3 linked regions of the Homo sapiens genome follow. The protein of the gene in region 1 interacts with the protein of each later gene in a biochemical or structural test. Each region holds a gene or a part of one and is shown in the gene's direction. Other genes may lie near its edges.

Region 1 (7,041 bases):
CTTGGAATAGAGCTACCAAAGCTCAGCCAGATGTCTGGAAGAGCCTCAGGACAAGGGGACACCCTGTAGCCTTGTGGTGGGAGCACAGCTGAGGCCCCCTTGGCCACCCTCTGCCACGACCAGGCAGAAAGCAGCTTTCGGACAGATTCGTTGTCTCAGATTTGATCTCAAAGAAAAACCAAGACCAGTATTTGTCCCAGGTCCTGCTTTTTTACAATTTCCTCCGAAATCCAGATACCTGTCAACACCTTGGAAAAACTGACTTCTCCCCAATTAGTAGTGTTGTGTGACTGTCATAAGCCCAGTACAAAAATGGCCTTCTTTGTTGGGGAGCTTCTTACCCTCCAGTGTTTTGCCCAATTTTTGTCCAAGGTGGCAACATAATTTAGTTCAGTTCTTGTTTATTTCCACCATCATCTATGCACCAAAATTTATGTTTCTCAAGGAGGGACCATTCAGAGGATGCTTCCCACCGGTTCAAGTGACAGTGCCAGAACCAAAGCGCATATTGTAGGAAATCAAACAATGGCCTCCAAGTTCCATTTCTACCCAGGGATGAACAAATCAACATCAATCTTGGTAACACAACTGCCACTGATGGTGCCTTACTCTTCTCTCATGACATGGCACAATCAATAGCAAACATAAAATTTGTTCTTGTTTAAGGATTTATATCCACTAATATGGTAACATAGTAGTGGTTCCATAGTTCTAACCTGTTTGTCAATCCAGTTAATCTTTTACTATCTTGCAATCTGCTAATGAAACTGTTTTTCTTTGTTTTATAATTTCAACTTTTAGAGTCAGGGGTACATGTGCAGGTGTGTTACATAACTAAATTGCGTGACACTGAGCTTTGGGGTACAAATGATCCCATCACCCAGGTAGTGAGCTAAATACCTACTAAATAGGTAGTTTTTCAGCCCTTGCCTTGCTCCCTCTCTCCCTTCTCTGGTAGTCCCCAGTGTCTTTAGTTGCCATCTTTATTTATGTCCAAATGCCCGACTGTGTGTTCTTAACTAAACATTTTGATTCATAGCTACCCATTCTACTTCCAGTAAACAGAAAGTTTTATTTGGTTAATGCTAACCAAATAGATTAAAAGGAAGTCATGACAATTAGACATTGACATTGATTTACTGACCATTTATTCCACTTGGATCTCCCACCTCTAGGTCAAGGAGAGCCTCTGGATGACTATGTGAATACCCAGGGGGCTTCACTGTTCAGTGTCACTAAGAAGCAGCTGGGAGCAGGAAGTATAGAAGAATGTGCAGCAAAATGTGAGGAGGACGAAGAATTCACCTGCAGGTATTTCCATTGTCGTTGCACCTACGCAGGAATCTGTAATTCAGATGGCAAGTAATTTACTCACAAATTTATTAATGATTTAAGAGGAAAGAGAAATTTATGGAGCCAGAGTTTGGAACTATATTTGCTCACAGTATGTGAAGCCATACTAACAGCTTCTTGTTAAGGTTTATTGGAGTCTTTGTTAGAAAAATACCCTCAAAGGAAGTTATTTGTTTTTACACCGGACACAAACATTAGCAGTTATTGTTCTGAGCTCCAGTTTTCAACATCATCATCAGTAAATGTTTGTTGAGGATCAGGTGAATGAAAGTGTCCTAGATAGATCTGAGCAATGACTTATAGCTACAAGATCCAGTGCCTGCCCTTTAGTATTTAAGGTGTAGTCAAAGAAACTGGATATAATGTTAAAAAAAAAAAAAAGACAGCCCAAGTGAGGTACAGGCATAATCAATGCATGCTCTACCCAGATCCAGAAGAAAGAACAGTGCCTAAGGTTGAGGCAGCTAGAGAAGGCTCAGGGAGGAGGTGGGAACTGAGCTGGGTTTGGAGTTGAGAGAGCTCTTGACAAGCACCAGGAAGGCAGGGGAAGATGCGGCCCTGCACCTTCTGAGGGGGACCATTAAGAGATGAAGTTGACTAAAGCAGAGACTTTGTGTAGGTGACGGGCTTGGGAAGGTAGCTATGGAATCCAGACTGAGCACCCATAGCAGGACCACGGGATGGAGATGGGAGGGGTCAGGGGCCAGGGTGGGGTGGAATGTGGAGCAGAGGTTCAGGGGAACTGATCAGAGTTGGGAGGTCATGGAGACGGACTATCTTGGCGAATGGGTTCAAAGCAACCAGAGTTGCTTCTTTCCAACCCAAAAACAAAAATTAAGAAGATGAGTGAAGAAGAAGTAAAGCAGTTGAAACAGGAAGAAAGGGAAAATTATGAGGGAGGGAAGGTAAGGGCAGATAAGATTTGCTGCCACGTTGGTGTATTTTGTTCAGTACTTCATCGATGCCATGCCCAAATAACTGAAAGAGGCAGCAATTCTGAGCTCTCTGGTCCCTCAAGATATTCAATGATCTTTAGCATGTCTCACTTATTAATAAACATTTGTTTTCTTTAAATAAAGAAAAATACTTATTGGATTTCCTGCTTCGTTCTGCAGGGCATTCCAATATCACAGTAAAGAGCAACAATGTGTGATAATGGCTGAAAACAGGAAGTCCTCCATAATCATTAGGATGAGAGATGTAGTTTTATTTGAAAAGAAAGGTGAGTACATTTTCTTCCTCCTCCTCCTACTGTCCTCCCCATCCTCCCACTCTTCCTCTTTCTCTATTCTATCTTTAATTTATAAGACCAGAGGAGGAAGGCACTATCGTGTTATAAAACTGAATTCTGAGTTAGGACAGGATTTGATTACTAACTAACCATGTCAGCTTGAGTGTATTACTTCACCTCTTAGATTTAATTTTTTTTGTTCAAAAGATGAAAGGATTAGATTTACAAAATCACTTCTACCTCTATGACCCTGAAAATAAGATTTTTAAAATATTATTTTATATTTAACAAGGAGATGGGAAGTCTAAGCATTCCTTTTGGTCTTGGCTTCTTATTCTGCAGGGTGACCATGGTCCTTGGGCCCTAACATCTGGATGAAGCCTTGTAAAACAGAAATACTGAGGTGTTTTAATCCTCAGAAACATTTAGATTGGGACACAAATCTTATTTTTACTCTTAAATTTTTCACATTTTGGGGGACATGGTCTATATTTTTCTCAGATTTCTGAAATGTTGTCTTTTAAAAATGTGTAAAAGTTACAGTTCCTTTTCTATAGTTTATTTTAAAATGTGGGTCAATAGTCCCACTGCTTAGAATAAGAGGCAGACAGGATTTCAATAGAAATTGCATGCCTTTTTAGATGTGCAAATGTTTCATTAAGCATTTCCCATCAAGTATATCCCATCAAGTATGCTCCCATTAAGCATATCCCATCAAGTATAAATATTTGAAGGGATGCATGACACTTTAAAAACTGTTTCCTCTACTGTGTTGGTAGCCAGGTATTAAGACTGTTAATAGTAACAATTTAGCTCTCCAAACATTCTGCATCCCAGGTGTTAAAGAGGACTGGAAACACCTTAGTTCTTGTATTCTTGAGGATGATTTGCCATATTGTGTCTAGTATTACGGCAAAACTCTAAGTAGCATTTTAAATAGTATTTATTTGGGTTGGAATTATTTCTATGCATTGACTCATCTTCCTGGGTTTCATTAGCTGTACGCATTGTACTTCCTTCCTTACCACTATTTATCTCGAATTCTTGAGATTAAAGTGCAGATTAAATCTAAACTTTATCTGGTGAAGTTATTAGTTCTTACAAGTAGCAAGCAAACGGTAAACTAAATAGGATCACCTAATTGTACCAGATTTTAAAAAAAAAAAACCCTGATTCTCCTGATTCTCTCTACAAAATGCTAACATTTAAATATGTCATTTGTAAATTGTTAACCAGAAGGAACATGGGAATGACTGTAGGTTGAGTTTGAAGTCTGAAGTTTGAAGGCTTAGTTTGCTTGTTTTCAAAGTGACAGAAGGGAGCAAAAGGTTATATAAACTCTGATGGGTACATACAAAAAAAAAAGAAGTGAAAAGTCAAAAGTCAGTCATTTTTTGGTCCTTGTTTCTTTGCTGTGGGATATTGACCTGCTACTAACTTACCTGCCAGGGTTTTGCCAGGAACAGTCAGTGTTAGATCACATTTACTTCTGCCACTTGCCACCAGCCACACTGCCTTCACCAAGTCCAAGACCCTATCACCACTGGTTGGGGCTACTTGTAGCTGTACACATGATCTCTAAGAAATGTAACTTCCCTGTTTAAAGCCCTTCCTAGTGCCCTTAAAATAAGACCCAAAGACTTCCCAAATGTGCTAGGGCCCAGCATTATTTAAGTAACCCCCAGCTGCTGTTTGCTTGGCTTGCTAAACTTTTCTACACTGGCCTTACTTCTGTTCCTTCACCACCCCAAGCACACACCCTCCTGCCTGGGACCCTCTTCACCTTTGTCCTGCTGTGCCAGCTCCTTCTTATCTCCTAGGTGTCAGCTCAATCATCATGTCCTTTGCAAATCTTCCTTGACCCCTAGACCTCCCTTTCACAAAGTACCTTGAGTTTACACTTTTGATGAGTGTCTTATGTCTACTGTAATACTATGTCCCAATGAAGATGTACTTGCAATCATAATACGCAGTATTGGGTTAAAAGCATTAGTTTGCTGTAGGTATGTTAGGAGCACTTTCCCCATGTGATTGATCAATTAATTAAAAAATGGCTAAAGTGGGTAACCTTAAATGATGGTGTAAATATACCTTAAACATTTTATATTTTCATTGAAAACACAAGTGTACTTGACACCTTTTGACGTAGAGCAGAGGCTTTTCTTCTTCGAATATGGGGTCACCAGTAGAAGGTCTCTGGTGTATTTCCTGCATAAACTATGCTCCAGTGCAACATCTACAATAATTACTTTCCTTATTTTTGAAGTGGACCATATCTCGACATTTATTAATCAATCTGAATGTGTAAAACCTTTAGATTTTTATGAATTCCTCCTCAAGCTTTATAGTCAACTATATGAGTGGATTGCCCTCTGTGGATTTGATAGCAATTTTTTAAATGATTCATGTTTCAACTTGTTAAAAACATTTAATTTAGTTAAAAACCAAACAAAAAAGAGCTTTGTTTCTTTTCACATTCATTTCTCAGTTTAGATCATCTTTAATTAAATATAAATGTAAGAAAGTTGGAAAATGCAAAGAAATGACTCGTTGTAAGCACATAACTCACGTGGGGGGAACAGACATGGGTGGGCACACTAGCAAACACCTGCCAGCTGCATGTGGACCCAGGTGGGCACCGGACTGTTTTAAACACAGGAGAGGGCCCGTTGTCTAACTGGTGAGTTGGTTGAGTGGAAGCTGGTTGAGAACTTTTACTGCAAACCATTTACAGTAGACCACAATTTTATAGCCCTGTTTGGCACTTTTTCATATCACTGGGAGCCTGAAGAAATAGAAGTGGGTTGGATCTCTTTCAGCCTCTGAAAAGCCTGCCATTCCCCCATCTAAAAAGCCCTTTCCCCATTCTCTCACTCTGTCTCATCATGTATGTAATATGTATCATCATTAAGTGATCTCATTTTATATTGTTTCCTTGAATATTTCCTGTAACCCCCCTGCCTGATTCCACTAGAATGTAAGCTCCATGACGGCCAAGCCTCTGGCTGCACTGTGCCCCGTGTGTCCCCAGCATCCTGGTGGGGCTCGATACACAGAGAGCTCATAAGTAGCATTTGAATACATGAATCAAAGAATGGCTCAGTTTACTGCAGCCTTTTTGCAGATGCAAAAGATGATCTTTTAGAAAGCAGAAACAGGGGGTCTGGTGCATGAGATCTTTTTCTCAACGTGACTATGCTGTGCAGACCTTCATGTGGTGTCTTGTGAAAGACTTTGACCACTGTGTGGACTTCCCTTCAGTGTATCTCTCAGAGTGCAAGACTGGGAATGGAAAGAACTACAGAGGGACGATGTCCAAAACAAAAAATGGCATCACCTGTCAAAAATGGAGTTCCACTTCTCCCCACAGACCTAGGTAAGACATTCCCTTTCATCTTTGTGTTCATCTACTGTAAAGTTGTCCCTCTGTGTCTGTGAGGGATTGGTTCCAGGACCCCTGTGGCTACCAAAATCCATGCTTCTCAAGTCCCTTATATAAAATGGTGCAGTATTTGCATATAACCTACATACCTTCTCTTGTATAATCCCTAATATAATGTAAATGCTATTTAATCGTTGTTATACTGTATTGTTTTTATTTGTATTATGTTTTATTGTCATATTGTTATTTTCTGTCATCTTTTTCAAGTCTTTTCCATCCACAGTTGGTTGAATTTGTGGATCTGGAACCCATGGATACAGAGGGCCAACTGTATTTAGGATAATTTCATCACTTTTAATTCAAACCACAATATGTGAATAAGCAGATAGAAAGAATCTTTTTGATGTCGATGTTCAACTATTTTTGGCACCATAGTAGAACATGGTTGCTTTCTATTTTTTCTTGGATATGGAGGTTTCTTGAAGACCTAGAACATAGAAGAATGCCTAGTTTAAAAAAAATCAATGAAACTATGAGTTTTAGGCCAAATCTGAGAAAAGATCAAAGATGACTATGTTTGGGACTGAAGTAAGCATATCAGGTTAGAACTCTCATCACATGTTCGACTCAAATTGTGGAGCAAAAGAGTAAATAAGATATAAAAATGAAAATGAAGATACGTGAAATTCAAATGTTGCAACTTGCCTATTATTTATTTTAGTGCATTTTTTTGTACTTTTCCCAGTTTGGTGTTAGGTGGCATTAAGTTCTCAGTAATGACGCTTATCAAATAGGAACTTAGTGCTTGTTACTCACCTTTATCCATTCCCCCAACACTCAACAAATTGCCTTTGCTATATCCCTATGAGATGAGCAGATCAAATATTCCCCGTGAGTTAATGAAAACTGATTCAACCAAATGGCAAAGTCAGAGACTATCGGGGGCCATGGAGACACTCTGGGCCATTTTTATGAGGTAGTCTAGGCTCATCTTTATGAGGGAACTGAGGTCTCGGGGGGTGGGGGTTATCCCAAATAGGTTCACAGAAGAACCAGAAATAAAACCTGCCTTTCT
Region 2 (7,041 bases), on another chromosome or scaffold:
CTCTCATCTTCTTATTACATCATTAATTTTATTTACTTTAAAATTAAGGATATCCAAAGTATTATGTGAGACCATTGCAATGGGAGACTTAAAAGTGGTATAAAATGTACTTTGGGCCAGGCGCAGTGGCTCACGCCTGTAATCCCAGCACTTTGGGAGGCCAAGGTGGGCGGATCACGAGGTCAAGAGATCGAGAGCATCCTGGCCAACATGGTGAAACCCCGTCTCTATTAAAAATACAAAAAAATTAGCTGGGCATGGTGGCGCATACCTGTAATCCCAGCTACTCGGGAAGCTGAGGCAGGAGAATCGCTTGAAACCAGAAGGCGGAGGTTGCAGTGAGCCAGGATCACGCCACTGCACTCCAGCCTGGGCAACAAGAGCGAAACTCCATCTCAAAAAAAAAAAAAAAAAAGTACATTGAATTGGAAAGTCTTCAAAAAGCAGCAGTGATGAATTTTTTGAGATTTTTAACAATTACAAAAATTCAGGGTTTTTTCTAATGGATGCCACCTGAGACTTTATTTTCTGTTATTTTCTTGTAATAACTAACCAAACAAGCTCATGTTGAAAAATGATTACTAAATTTGAGCTAATTGCAATGACTGGTTTCAAAATTTTCCACAGTGTATTTGAGTTAAAATTTCACTGTGAAGAGTACTACGATCACTCTCGCTTATTCCAAAAATATAAATGGACACTTGAGTATTTGAATTATTGAGGAAATGGTTGACTGGGTAATTTTTAAAAATCACTGGGCACAAAAAATATATTTTGACTTATATTAGTTTAGAGTATTTACACTTGAAAGAGTCTCATCTTTTCTGAAGGGTGTTTCTTTCATACACATTTTATTGCACTGAGTTTTGTGACCCATGGCATATTAATGAAGCTGAACAGGATGTGAAATATAAACTGGAAGCAAAAGATTAAATAAACCAAAATTGCATTTTTTCTGTAGTCTTGTCCAAAATTGGGTAACCACTTCTGATGGGGTAGCTCATATCCAAGAATGAGTCACAAAACCAGACTCGTTGAACCTGGTATATGATGAGTCACAAAGCAACATTCTGCCTTTGTTTTTTCAGGACAAGAAACTTGAATTGTATCCCACTGAGTTAAAAGATAAAATATATGGCATTGGCATTTCTGTACTTCAGAGAGGAATATATCTGTTTGTGGTAGGAATAAAAAATAAGTGAGAGAGGCAAAGCTTAGGTTCATCATATTATGTTACTGATATAACACAATTAACTTGGTAAAAGTGAAGGTGTGGGTGGGCGTGGTGGCTCACGCTTGTAATCCCAGCACTTTGGGAGTCCGAGGCGGGTGGATCACCTGAGGTCGGGAGTTCGAGACCAGCCTGACCAACATGGAGAAACCCCATCTCTACTAAAAATATAAAATTAGCCAGGCATGGTGGCACACGCCTCTAATCCCAGCTACTCGGGAGGCTGAGGCAGGAGAAGCGCTTAAACCTGGGAGGTGGAGTTTGCAGTGAGCTGAGATTGAGCCACTGCACTCTAGCCTGGGCAACAAGAGCAAAACTCTGTCTCAAAAAAAAAAAAAAAAAGTGAAGGTGCCCAGTGTCTGCAACTATGTCACCCCGGGCATATCACATATCACTCTGTTTTTCCGTCTGTAAAACGGGAGCAACAATGCCATTGCCTTATCATCAGAAGGATATGGAGACTAAATGGGAGAATGTAGGTAAACAGCACAGAGTATGGGTATCAGTAAGTAAACTGCAGCAGTTTGTTGATGTTAACAATAGTTAGCATTATATCTAACTATATCTAACGATATAACCATTGGGAATCCAGTTTTCCATGATTTTCCTCTAGAATGGAGCTGCCTAAGTCCTGCTTAAGTCATTTTTCTTTGAAGATTACTGAACATCATCTTCAAATGTTCATCCTTGTAAACACGTGTGTGTGTGTGTGTGTGTGTTAATTTAAATTTTCAGAAAAATTCTGTAGGCCGTTGGAAGGAAGCTACCATACCAGGCCACTTAAACTCCTACACCATCAAAGGCCTGAAGCCTGGTGTGGTATACGAGGGCCAGCTCATCAGCATCCAGCAGTACGGCCACCAAGAAGTGACTCGCTTTGACTTCACCACCACCAGCACCAGCACACCTGTGACCAGTATGTACACAACCACCCTCATGCCTCCTACCCCCGAGGTTCCTAGAGCTAGGCTCTCCTGAGGCAATGCTTTCCTTCTCAATTCATATTCTTCCAGGAGGGGCACCAACGTTTTTTAAAATGATGTTGGCGACGAGGACGGTAAATTTTCTAGATGACTGAAGGCTGACTTTCCCCTTTCTGTGACTCTCTAGGCAACACCGTGACAGGAGAGACGACTCCCTTTTCTCCTCTTGTGGCCACTTCTGAATCTGTGACCGAAATCACAGCCAGTAGCTTTGTGGTCTCCTGGGTCTCAGCTTCCGACACCGTGTCGGGATTCCGGGTGGAATATGAGCTGAGTGAGGAGGGAGATGAGCCACAGTACCTGGGTAAGCTCAATATGTCGCTCAAGACAGGTTCAGGGCAGCTGCTGGAAAACTCTCCTTGTGGGGGTGGGTGGCCTCTAGGCAGGTGGTATCTGTGGTTTGGAACTGGTTGACAGCTCAGACTGAACAAACCACCCTCTGGCATGAGGAAGGGAAGGACTGACTCTTTCTAAGAAGTGGCCGGGTTTTTCCCAAGCCACTGTCACATGTTCCTGGTCCCTGATGCCAGCTGCATCATGCGCCTACCTGTGCACAAGTTCCTACAGCAAAAGCTGTGTTCTTGGTGGAAGTAATTACCAGGACTGCAGCTGACAATGTGAGCACAGTACGGTCACTCATACTTTTCAAATTGTTATGGTGAGGGGCCTTTAAAAAACTTCATTGGCGCACTGAAGTGTGTGCCATCGTAAGCACTGAGTTCAGTGAATTTGAATTCTTATAAAGTGAACACACCACAAGACCAGCACCCAGATCAAGGAAAAGAATATCTCTCTACCCTCACCCCATCATCTTCCGCCAATAATCACTACCCTGACTCTTACTGCAGAGAGCTATTTTTAAAAATTTGGCATTCGATTACAAAAATTATACGTCTTTAGAAAAAAAGTTGGAAAAATGAAAGGAAGAAGGAGGAGGAGGAGAAAGGAGAAAGACAAGAAGTGGTGTTTTCCCATAGTACATTAATAATCACAGATTAGGTGGGTGCGGTGGCTAACTCCTATAATCTCAGCACTTCGGGAAGCTGAGGCTGGTGGATCACTTGAGGCCAGGAGTTCGAGATCAGCCTGGCCAACATGGTGAACCTCCATCTCTAATAAAAATGCAAAAAAAATAGCCGGGTGTGGTGGTGTGCACCTGTAATCCCAGCTACTCGGGAGGCCGAGGCAGAAGAATTGCTTGAACCGGAAAGGTAGAGGATGCAGTGAGCTGAAATTGTGCCACTGCACTCCAGCCTGGGCAACACAGCAAGACTCTGTGTAAAAATAATAATAATAATCACTGATTAGCTATTAGCACATTACCTTCTAGTCGCTTTTCCCTATGAATATATAATTCTTAAAATATCCTTCTTATAAGCTGTAGAGTCATTTGAGGGACTAGTTTGCTCTGATTAGTTACCTTTTCTTTTCATTTCAAAGATCTTCCAAGCACAGCCACTTCTGTGAACATCCCTGACCTGCTTCCTGGCCGAAAATACATTGTAAATGTCTATCAGATATCTGAGGATGGGGAGCAGAGTTTGATCCTGTCTACTTCACAAACAACAGGTACATGTGTGCTACATAGTGTTAAAAGAATCTTTTTCTGTAAAACACAGGCCTGTAGTAGCACTTCCTGACTGTTTGCCCCACTTTCTTTCTTTCTTAGCGCCTGATGCCCCTCCTGACACGACTGTGGACCAAGTTGATGACACCTCAATTGTTGTTCGCTGGAGCAGACCCCAGGCTCCCATCACAGGTCAGCTAAGCGTCCCCCTCTTTGGCTGCTATGTTAATCTTAATGACATCAGCAGGGAGGGCGCAGATTCTGACTGCGGACCTGCATATCACTTTAAATCTCCAATATAATTTATGGGAGAGGGGTTTGTGTGTGTGTGTGTGTGTGTGTGTGGCGGGGGTGGGGGAGTTATTTTCTATGGCACATTTCCCCTTGAAACCATTTCACCAACTCCCTTATACACACACACCACAACATACACACAACCTGTAAAGCCAGCTCATTGGCTTATTAAAGCAAGTGTTCCCAGGGTTGAAGAGGTGTAATTTCCTGAAAACGTTGCTCTAAGATTTATCCTTAAGGAGAAAGCTGAGCTGTCGTCTTAGCTCATTAGGTGATTCAACTGCCTCATCACTGAAGTTCCAAAAAGACACACACAGTGCTAGACAACTCTGCTTAGGCTGGTTCATTAATTGCTTCCCTCGTCTGGAGCTCAAAGAGGAAAAATCAGCTTAACATGAATATTTTCACCTAATGGCATCTCTAATTGACATTTATTAAGGATGTCAGGTCTTCAAGGATGACATTTATTATTAAAAAGGTTCGCATGACTGTTCTTATTTTATCTTCGTGCTGAATAGTCATTATTAGAAGAAGTGGCAATATTCAAAGAGTCAAAAAGTATCACTGGCTCTTCACTAATCAAGCAAGATGCTAAGGGATATTAGAAAAGGGAGGATTTATGGTGTTTCTAAGCCTCTGTCTCAAAGAAAACAGTGCATCTTACTTTTGCTCATGAATCTGCAGGGTACAGAATAGTCTATTCGCCATCAGTAGAAGGTAGCAGCACAGAACTCAACCTTCCTGAAACTGCAAACTCCGTCACCCTCAGTGACTTGCAACCTGGTGTTCAGTATAACATCACTATCTATGCTGTGGAAGAAAATCAAGAAAGTACACCTGTTGTCATTCAACAAGAAACCACTGGCACCCCACGCTCAGGTAACTTTTTTAAGAAGACACTTCCTATGTTATCTTATCAGGATTGTTCCTGAAGGAGGGTTGTTTTGTCTCTGTCAACAGTCCTCTCATTCAAGAAATCTTATATATTAGTTTTTCCCTAAACTTCTGATATTTAGCTGAAATGTCATAAGTAACTTATCAAAGCTGGCTACTGGCCTTTCTGATTAAAAACTGACACCATAACGTCCATCTACAAATTTTCCCCTAGAAGCTTAAGGGTCATTTCATTTTTGATTCTTAAGTATTATAAAATGATTCAGTAAAACAAAAACTGTTACATTATTTTCTGCAGTTATTTCAAAGGCTTTTTCTAAAAAATTTTTTAGTATCTTTTCTTATAACCCTCTCCCCCCACCACCATATGACACTTCATATGCTGGTAACTCACTTATTACCTATTTTAGATAAAAGGTTCAAATGTCATAATTTAAGCACTATGACTGGACCATGAAAATGTGATCTGATTAAGAGACAAAACTTAGCAAAACTCTCGAATGAGAGGCTCAATGAACTGCCTAACATATCCAAGAAACTGGCTTCTTAAAAGTAATCTTCAGCAGAGAATGTGAATGACCAGTTGACTCTTGTCTGTCAGATACAGTGCCCTCTCCCAGGGACCTGCAGTTTGTGGAAGTGACAGACGTGAAGGTCACCATCATGTGGACACCGCCTGAGAGTGCAGTGACCGGCTACCGTGTGGATGTGATCCCCGTCAACCTGCCTGGCGAGCACGGGCAGAGGCTGCCCATCAGCAGGAACACCTTTGCAGAAGTCACCGGGCTGTCCCCTGGGGTCACCTATTACTTCAAAGTCTTTGCAGTGAGCCATGGGAGGGAGAGCAAGCCTCTGACTGCTCAACAGACAACCAGTATGTCTTCTCCTATCTCTATCTCCCCTCCAAATTCTCCACCCTCACTTGCAGCCTGTGAGAAAGTGCAGTAAACCATTCACTCAGAGGTGTATGGCTTAGAGAGAGGGAAATACCCAGCCGGCAAGGGAATGCATAGTGAACACAAAGCACATTAAACTTGAAAACAAAACTCAGACAAGCTCCATGGATGCTAAGTGGTAACCCATTTCTAAAATACATGTACCAGCTGAAGGGTACTAAGAGGGGAGAACTGAAGAGAATCTAATTTGAGTGCATTTTTCGTGTAACTAAATATATCTAGATCAAAGTTAAAATGCAGGATCATAACACTTAGAGTAGAATTCATTTAACAATAGCAATTGTCAAGTGTCTAGTATTACTAGCCACCAGCTTATCTGCTCAGTTTTTACAAGCATTATTCTCATATTTACTCTTTGTTTTGACCTTAGGAAGGAAGGTCTTATTATTATTATTTTATTTATTTATTTTTTTGAGATGGAGTCTCGCTCTGTCGCCAGGGCTGGAGTACAGTGGCACCATCTCAGCTCACTGGAACCTCTACCACCTGGGTTCAAGCAATTCTCCTGCCTCAGCCTCCCGAGTAGCTGGGACTACAGGCGTGTGCCACCATGCCCTGCTAATTTTTGTGTTTTTAGTAGAAATGGGTTTCGCTGTGTTGGCCAAGCTGGTCTGAAACTCCTGACCTCAAGTGATCCACCCACTTTGGCCTCCCAAAGTGCTGGGATTACAGGCGTGAGCCATCGTGCCCAGCCGGAAGGTCTTACTAGTATCCGTATTGAATACTTAAAGAAACTGAGGCTTTAAAAAAGTTCTGCAACTTGTAGGGTCACAGAGATAGGAAGGGATAGAGCTGGCTCTATAACCTATGTCCGAAGCCCATGCTCTCAATTATTATACTCGACTGCCTCTTAAAGATTTCCTCTATTTGAAAGGTAATTTAAATTTCGGTGGGAAAACTGCTGGTTATTATTCTCAAGAATAAACTCCACAACTTATGTGATTCTGATAGTGCAAACTCACCAGTATCCTACCATGAATCTGAGGATACGTTATCATTACTGTAATTACTGTCTAATCTGAACCATGTGAAAATAACTTTTATTTCTCTAGCAAAGGGCTATTCACAGAATATTGCTTTTGACCCATAGAGAGCTTCTTCTTGCTGTCATTTTAG
Region 3 (2,685 bases), on another chromosome or scaffold:
TGGAACCCATCACGTTCCACATCCTCCCACCCATTCTTTCTCTCAGGAACTAGTCCCGACAGATGCAGACATCCCTCTATCCCTGAGAGGGCTCTGGGCAGGGAACCCATAACCCTACCCTGCTTCCTGTCCCAAGAGGAGGCTACCTTCTATCACCCACAGACAGTGCCGGGTCCCCGCTCTGTGACTCAGGCAGCTGCGACTCCAGACAGCTCACTCATCTGCCTAGATCTCAGTCCTTCCACCCACATCCAGCCTGATGAGCTGTCCCACTCCTTCTGCTTCTCAACCCCCATGGTTCTTCCACCCTCAGGAACAGTCCTTTTCATGGGCCAAGTGATGGAACCCTGACCCTGGGGAAAGACGCCTTCATCTGGGACAAAACTGGAGATGCATCGGGAAAGAAGAAACTCCGAAGAAAAGAATTTTAGTGTTAATGACTCTTTCTGAAGGAAGAGAAGACATTTGCCTTTTGTTAAAAGATGGTAAACCAGATCTGTCTCCAAGACCTTGGCCTCTCCTTGGAGGACCTTTAGGTCAAACTCCCTAGTCTCCACCTGAGACCCTGGGAGAGAAGTTTGAAGCACAACTCCCTTAAGGTCTCCAAACCAGACGGTGACGCCTGCGGGACCATCTGGGGCACCTGCTTCCACCCGTCTCTCTGCCCACTCGGGTCTGCAGACCTGGTTCCCACTGAGGCCCTTTGCAGGATGGAACTACGGGGCTTACAGGAGCTTTTGTGTGCCTGGTAGAAACTATTTCTGTTCCAGTCACATTGCCATCACTCTTGTACTGCCTGCCACCGCGGAGGAGGCTGGTGACAGGCCAAAGGCCAGTGGAAGAAACACCCTTTCATCTCAGAGTCCACTGTGGCACTGGCCACCCCTCCCCAGTACAGGGGTGCTGCAGGTGGCAGAGTGAATGTCCCCCATCATGTGGCCCAACTCTCCTGGCCTGGCCATCTCCCTCCCCAGAAACAGTGTGCATGGGTTATTTTGGAGTGTAGGTGACTTGTTTACTCATTGAAGCAGATTTCTGCTTCCTTTTATTTTTATAGGAATAGAGGAAGAAATGTCAGATGCGTGCCCAGCTCTTCACCCCCCAATCTCTTGGTGGGGAGGGGTGTACCTAAATATTTATCATATCCTTGCCCTTGAGTGCTTGTTAGAGAGAAAGAGAACTACTAAGGAAAATAATATTATTTAAACTCGCTCCTAGTGTTTCTTTGTGGTCTGTGTCACCGTATCTCAGGAAGTCCAGCCACTTGACTGGCACACACCCCTCCGGACATCCAGCGTGACGGAGCCCACACTGCCACCTTGTGGCCGCCTGAGACCCTCGCGCCCCCCGCGCCCCTCTTTTTCCCCTTGATGGAAATTGACCATACAATTTCATCCTCCTTCAGGGGATCAAAAGGACGGAGTGGGGGGACAGAGACTCAGATGAGGACAGAGTGGTTTCCAATGTGTTCAATAGATTTAGGAGCAGAAATGCAAGGGGCTGCATGACCTACCAGGACAGAACTTTCCCCAATTACAGGGTGACTCACAGCCGCATTGGTGACTCACTTCAATGTGTCATTTCCGGCTGCTGTGTGTGAGCAGTGGACACGTGAGGGGGGGGTGGGTGAGAGAGACAGGCAGCTCGGATTCAACTACCTTAGATAATATTTCTGAAAACCTACCAGCCAGAGGGTAGGGCACAAAGATGGATGTAATGCACTTTGGGAGGCCAAGGCGGGAGGATTGCTTGAGCCCAGGAGTTCAAGACCAGCCTGGGCAACATACCAAGACCCCCGTCTCTTTAAAAATATATATATTTTAAATATACTTAAATATATATTTCTAATATCTTTAAATATATATATATATTTTAAAGACCAATTTATGGGAGAATTGCACACAGATGTGAAATGAATGTAATCTAATAGAAGCCTAATCAGCCCACCATGTTCTCCACTGAAAAATCCTCTTTCTTTGGGGTTTTTCTTTCTTTCTTTTTTGATTTTGCACTGGACGGTGACGTCAGCCATGTACAGGATCCACAGGGGTGGTGTCAAATGCTATTGAAATTGTGTTGAATTGTATGCTTTTTCACTTTTGATAAATAAACATGTAAAAATGTTTCAAAAAAATAATAAAATAAATAAATACGAAGAATATGTCAGGACAGTCACTGCCTTCACCTTCTCCATTTCACACCGGTGGTACAAGAAATCAGAAGCCTAGGCCAGGTGTGGTGGTTCATGCCTGTAATCCCAGCACTTTGGGAAGCCGAGGTGGGTGGATCACCTAAGGTCAGGAGTTTGAGACCAGCCTGGACAACATGGTGAAACCCCGTCTCTACTAAAAATACAAAAATTAGCCGGGCGTGGTGGCTGGCGCCTGTAATCCCAGCTACTCGGGAGGCTGAGGCAGGAGAATCACTTGAAGCCAGGAGGCAGAGGTTGCAGTGAGCTGAGATTGCATCACTGAACTCCAGGCTGGGTGGCAGAGCGAGACTCCCTCTCAAAAAACAACAACTACAAAGACAACAACAAACCCAGAATCAAAATCCTGTTGGTCCATAGACCTCATGGGTGGAAGAGACCTTCCTACATCCAGGTTGGCCCAACATGGGGGAGTCCATGAAATGGTCACCTCAGCTCTGCCACAAGCCCCAAGGATAAGTTGATTCTGCCCCTGG

The links. The genes of interacting proteins can lie anywhere in the genome.
Region 2: the proteins of PLG (region 1) and FN1 form a complex in vitro, tested with the Homo sapiens proteins (one study listed by BioGRID).
Region 3: the proteins of PLG (region 1) and SERPINE1 form a complex in vitro, tested with the Homo sapiens proteins (one study listed by BioGRID).

Annotation. Positions count from the first base shown.
Region 1 is NC_000006.12:160,705,232-160,712,272, forward strand, and holds part of PLG (plasminogen isoform 1 precursor), read left to right. Parts: intron 1-1,175; coding exon 1,176-1,311; intron 1,312-2,468; coding exon 2,469-2,575; intron 2,576-5,845; coding exon 5,846-5,960; coding exon of another isoform or gene 5,961-5,964; exon of another isoform or gene 5,965-6,641; intron 6,642-7,041. UniProt on the Homo sapiens protein: Plasmin dissolves the fibrin of blood clots and acts as a proteolytic factor in a variety of other processes including embryonic development, tissue remodeling, tumor invasion, and inflammation. In ovulation, weakens the walls of the Graafian follicle.
Region 2 is NC_000002.12:215,405,040-215,412,080, reverse strand, and holds part of FN1 (fibronectin isoform 1 precursor), read left to right. Parts: intron 1-1,966; coding exon 1,967-2,147; intron 2,148-2,341; coding exon 2,342-2,518; intron 2,519-3,654; coding exon 3,655-3,783; intron 3,784-3,883; coding exon 3,884-3,973; intron 3,974-4,759; coding exon 4,760-4,954; intron 4,955-5,570; coding exon 5,571-5,843; intron 5,844-7,041. UniProt on the Homo sapiens protein: Fibronectins bind cell surfaces and various compounds including collagen, fibrin, heparin, DNA, and actin. Fibronectins are involved in cell adhesion, cell motility, opsonization, wound healing, and maintenance of cell shape.
Region 3 is NC_000007.14:101,137,092-101,139,776, forward strand, and holds the end of SERPINE1 (plasminogen activator inhibitor 1 isoform 2 precursor), read left to right. Parts: intron 1-162; coding exon of another isoform or gene 163-260; exon of another isoform or gene 261-313; coding exon 314-351; 3' UTR 352-698; coding exon of another isoform or gene 699-1,006; 3' UTR 1,007-2,156; downstream 2,157-2,685. UniProt on the Homo sapiens protein: Serine protease inhibitor. Inhibits TMPRSS7. Is a primary inhibitor of tissue-type plasminogen activator (PLAT) and urokinase-type plasminogen activator (PLAU).